Linked DNA regions of Homo sapiens: region 1 is linked to region 2. A link means that fine-mapping ties the variant in region 2 to the expression of a gene that starts in the linked region. Tissue or cell type: whole blood. Region 2 holds a variant in brackets; the other region holds the start of a gene. All regions are shown on one strand. Distances are between the middles of the regions.

Region 1 (2,500 bases), 42 kb after region 2:
CGGCGGCCTGGACACCCTCGCTCCCGCCGTTGGCGCCCACCTGAATGGGGAGGCGGGGGAGGAAGCGGTGGCTTCGGGCCTCGAGGGCTGCGGCCCCCGCCTCGGAATCCCGGCCCCAGAGTTAAGTTTGTCTCCTCCCTCGGTGCGCCCCTCCCCGTGCTCGCCCCGGCGTCCAGCTCCGCTAGTCTGGGGGGCCCCGCGGTCCCGCAGGAAAAAAAATCGGCGACTCCACGCCGGGTAACAGCGCCGGCCCCGCGCGCCTAGCAAGCCGCGCGCTCCGACCTGGAGAAGTAATTATAAAGAAAGTTTTCCAGCCCGGGCGGATCGACCGGCCAGGTCCTCCAGGCTCCCGGGCCGAGGCCGCCTCCGCTCCCCGCGGGGTCCTAGCGCCCTGCGCGGCGCCGCCCATGGGACCCCGGCGTCCTCCGAGAGGTACCTCTGCGCGGAATCACAGGGGTAGCCTGGAGATCAGAGCTAGGAGACGCAGAGCCACCGCGCTCAGGACCTCTCCGCGCGTCCCAAACGGCCCCCCACCGGCCCCAGCCCCGCTGCTCTGCGCTGCAGCCTCCCCGGGACGCGGGTCCGGGACAGGCCTGGTTCTGGCTTTGAAAGAGAATCCGCGCCCCAGCAGCTCAAGACCAAGACTCGCCCTCCGCCCCCCACCCCTACCCCGTGCAGCCTCGGGATACTCCTGGGCTCCCGGCCGTGGCTGGATACGGGCGCCTAGGGCAGGCAGGAGGAGGGGGCCCCCGCTACCGACCACGTGGGCGCGGGGGCGACGGCCGGGCCGGGGGCGGAGCTTGGAGCGAGCGCCGCGGCTCTGCTGGGCGCGCTGGAGGCGGTGGGCGTTGCGCCGCGGCCTGCCTGGGGAGCGCGGCGCTGTGCCGCGCTGGTTCGCCGCCCCATGCCGGCCGCGCGCTAGGACCCAGCAGGCGCCGCGCCGCCGCAGCCCGGGGACAGAGGCCGCCTCGGACTCTAGGGGGCGACGCGGCCTGCCGGGTATAAAAGCTGGGCCGGCGCGGGCCGGGCCATTCGCGACCCGGAGGTGCGCGGGCGCGGGCGAGCAGGGTCTCCGGGTGGGCGGCGGCGACGCCCCGCGCAGGCTGGAGGCCGCCGAGGCTCGCCATGCCGGGAGAACTCTAACTCCCCCATGGAGTCGGCCGACTTCTACGAGGCGGAGCCGCGGCCCCCGATGAGCAGCCACCTGCAGAGCCCCCCGCACGCGCCCAGCAGCGCCGCCTTCGGCTTTCCCCGGGGCGCGGGCCCCGCGCAGCCTCCCGCCCCACCTGCCGCCCCGGAGCCGCTGGGCGGCATCTGCGAGCACGAGACGTCCATCGACATCAGCGCCTACATCGACCCGGCCGCCTTCAACGACGAGTTCCTGGCCGACCTGTTCCAGCACAGCCGGCAGCAGGAGAAGGCCAAGGCGGCCGTGGGCCCCACGGGCGGCGGCGGCGGCGGCGACTTTGACTACCCGGGCGCGCCCGCGGGCCCCGGCGGCGCCGTCATGCCCGGGGGAGCGCACGGGCCCCCGCCCGGCTACGGCTGCGCGGCCGCCGGCTACCTGGACGGCAGGCTGGAGCCCCTGTACGAGCGCGTCGGGGCGCCGGCGCTGCGGCCGCTGGTGATCAAGCAGGAGCCCCGCGAGGAGGATGAAGCCAAGCAGCTGGCGCTGGCCGGCCTCTTCCCTTACCAGCCGCCGCCGCCGCCGCCGCCCTCGCACCCGCACCCGCACCCGCCGCCCGCGCACCTGGCCGCCCCGCACCTGCAGTTCCAGATCGCGCACTGCGGCCAGACCACCATGCACCTGCAGCCCGGTCACCCCACGCCGCCGCCCACGCCCGTGCCCAGCCCGCACCCCGCGCCCGCGCTCGGTGCCGCCGGCCTGCCGGGCCCTGGCAGCGCGCTCAAGGGGCTGGGCGCCGCGCACCCCGACCTCCGCGCGAGTGGCGGCAGCGGCGCGGGCAAGGCCAAGAAGTCGGTGGACAAGAACAGCAACGAGTACCGGGTGCGGCGCGAGCGCAACAACATCGCGGTGCGCAAGAGCCGCGACAAGGCCAAGCAGCGCAACGTGGAGACGCAGCAGAAGGTGCTGGAGCTGACCAGTGACAATGACCGCCTGCGCAAGCGGGTGGAACAGCTGAGCCGCGAACTGGACACGCTGCGGGGCATCTTCCGCCAGCTGCCAGAGAGCTCCTTGGTCAAGGCCATGGGCAACTGCGCGTGAGGCGCGCGGCTGTGGGACCGCCCTGGGCCAGCCTCCGGCGGGGACCCAGGGAGTGGTTTGGGGTCGCCGGATCTCGAGGCTTGCCCGAGCCGTGCGAGCCAGGACTAGGAGATTCCGGTGCCTCCTGAAAGCCTGGCCTGCTCCGCGTGTCCCCTCCCTTCCTCTGCGCCGGACTTGGTGCGTCTAAGATGAGGGGGCCAGGCGGTGGCTTCTCCCTGCGAGGAGGGGAGAATTCTTGGGGCTGAGCTGGGAGCCCGGCAACTCTAGTATTTA
Region 2 (2,752 bases):
CACTGCAGCTGGCTAATTTTTGTATTTTTTTGTAGATACGGGTTTCACCATGTTGTCCCGGCTGGTCTCAAACTCCTGTGCTCAGGTGATATGCCTGCCTTGGCCTCCCAAAATGCTGGGATTACAGGCATGAGCCAGAGTGCCCAGCCACATCAACTTTTTTAGGCTCCACATATGAGTAAGGTCACATAGACTTTGTCTTTCTGTGCCTGGCTTATTTCATTTAACATAAGGTCCTCAAAGTTCATCCATGTTGCTGCAAATGACAAGATTTCATTCTTTTTTAAGGCTGAATAGTATTCCACTGTGTATATATACCACATTTTCTTCATCCATCCATTGATGGACACTTAGGTTGATTCCATATCTCGGCCATTGTGAATAATGCTGTAATAAACATAAGAGTACAGAAATCTCTTTGACATGCCGATTTCATTTCCTTTGGATCTGTACCCTCTGGTGGGATTGTTGGATCTTATGGTAGTGCTATTTTTAATTTGTTGAGGAACCTCCATGCTGTTTTCTATTATTTCTGACTAATTTACACTCCCACTAGCAGTGCATGCTGTATTAAAAGGTGGTAAGTATCGTGGGGGTGGAAAGCGGAGGAGGCTAAAGAGGAACAGGCGTGGGATAAAGTACATTTTAAATAGCACAGCCGAGGCCACAGTGAGAAGGCCATGTGGAACCAAAGACTTACACAGTCCCATCAATAGGATCAAAGCCCCCAAAATGGGCCATGAGATTGGACTATCTAGAATGGCTTTCTAGAGATGTCGTATTACTCTGAAAACTGCCAAATTCACTTTTTCTCCTACCACCTGCTATCGTAGGTATAATCACAGCCACTCCCTTGGGAAATGTCTCCTCCCCTCCTCTCCACCTTCTCTTCAAGGATTATATATATAGGATTTGTGCTCACAGAGGCAGCTAGACTCCTACAAAGGAAAATGTTAAGTTCCTTTCTCTTGACAAGAGATGTGTTCCTGCGGGGAGAATTTTACTGTAACTGAAATTTAAGTAAAACTCACCGAAATGACATGCTTAGTGAATTATCTTTTAAAAGGGGCCTCTCCATCCAAAACACGTGCAAACAAGAGCCAGTGGGATCCACCCGAGAGTAGAATGTGTTCTCCTGTGCATGGATTTAGTAACAGCCACACTTATTTCCAAAAACTCACATGAGATCTGCCAGGAGTTTGCTCTCCTTAGAGGGAAGGGAAAAAGAGGCACCGGCATATGAGGAAAACCTCACCTTCGATTACTGGGATATTCATCAAGTCAAGATTGTCATTAAAACACACACACACACACACACACACATACACACACAAAACTGTTTTTGATACAGAATTCTCCCAGAATCACATGAGGTACACAGATGCCAAATCTTGTTAAGAGTTGCAAGGGTGAATCTCCAGCGAGCTCAGTTTCTTTTCTTTCTTTTTTTTTTTTCTCATTTTTCATCCAAAGCTGCATC[T/C]CTGAGCGCTCAGCTCTGCCCCGTGGGAGAAGGAAGAGGAGTTGTTGGCGTTGCCTTTGATTATGGGTTTCCATGGTATCCGGGAAGAGAGAGGAGAAGGGAGGGGCTTGGGAATGGCAACTGTAGACTCGGCCAGCTCTGGGGACACCTCATACCGAAATTCTCCTAAAAATCAGCTGGGAATAAGAGAACCATATCCTTAAGAAGAATCCGTGGTATAAATTAGTTTTGGATTCCTAAGGGATCAAGACCACATCTGGGTACGTTTGTTGGGTCTATTTCTGTCTCGTTTACCCAGGTTTTCTGTCCTAATTCTTTCTTCTCAATTCCATAATGAAAAGTAGTCTCTTATCAAAGCTCCTTTTTCTAAAAATAGTCAATTTAATGTTTCTCTGACCATGGAAAATGTAGTCCCTTAGGGGAAATTTTCAGAACTGTTGATGAGCAGCTGAATTAGAAACGCTGTCAGCAGCAAGGAGAGAATCACGCTGATTTGACCTCTTGGCCACCTGCCTGGCAAGGACCTAAGAAGATGGATACTTGCATTGTACTGACAAAAGTGTTTGTTGTTTAATGAGTTGCAAATCAGTATCAGGCTTGTTTGAGGTGCTTTCTTTTTCTTTTTCTTTCTTTCCTTCTCTTTTTTTGAGACAGGATTTTGCTCTATAGCCCAGTGTGGACTACAGGGGCATGATCATAGCTCACTGCAGCCTCAAACTCCTGGGCTCAAGTGATCCTCCTGCCTCAGCCTCCGGAGTAGCTGAGACTACAGGTGTGCACCACTGTGCCTGGCTATTTTTTTTTTCATTTTTTTTATAGAGACAGGGGTCTCACTATATTGCCCAGGCTCATCTTGAACTCCTGGCTCAAGCAATCCTCCCACCTCAGCCTCCCAAAGTGCTGGGATTATAGGCATGAGCCACTGCACCCGGCCTTGCTTTACTTTTCTTTCAAGGAACTAATAAGGGCACAGCTCTGAAATTTCACAAGACTAGCACGCAGATCAAGGAACAGAAGTCCCCTTGTGATTCTTATCCCAGTCTCCACCCTCCCTCCCCCTCAAACACCATGAAGTAGTTTTGCCTGTTTGATAGAAAACTTGATATAAATGCAATTCCATGGAATGTGCAGATGGTCCTCTTTCATATCTGGCTCTTGTCATTCCACATTATGTTCATGAGATTCACCTATGTTGGCAGTAGCAAAAGATAACTCATTTTTGCTACTCCATAAAATTCTACTGTGTGAATATTCCAAGATTTATCCATTGGA

What was found. PIP is the estimated chance that this variant, and not a neighbour inherited with it, causes the effect.
Region 1: it holds the start of CEBPA, and the variant in region 2 is fine-mapped to the expression of CEBPA in whole blood (TOPMed, PIP above 0.99).

Annotation. Positions count from the first base shown.
Region 1 is chr19:33,301,065-33,303,564 of GRCh38, reverse strand. CEBPA (CCAAT enhancer binding protein alpha) reads left to right here and starts at 1,031. Exons shown (of 1, transcript NM_004364.5): 1 at 1,031-2,500. The coding sequence starts at 1,151. The coding sequence ends at 2,227. CEBPA-DT (CEBPA divergent transcript) reads right to left here and starts at 744. Exons shown (of 1, transcript NR_026887.2): 1 at 1-744. RefSeq lists silencers at 291-550, 631-1,200.
Region 2 is chr19:33,343,217-33,345,968 of GRCh38, reverse strand. No RefSeq gene overlaps it. Among named protein-coding and RNA genes, the nearest start is that of CEBPG, 29 kb to the left of the region's middle. The variant T/C (reference allele first, on the strand shown) is at 1,481.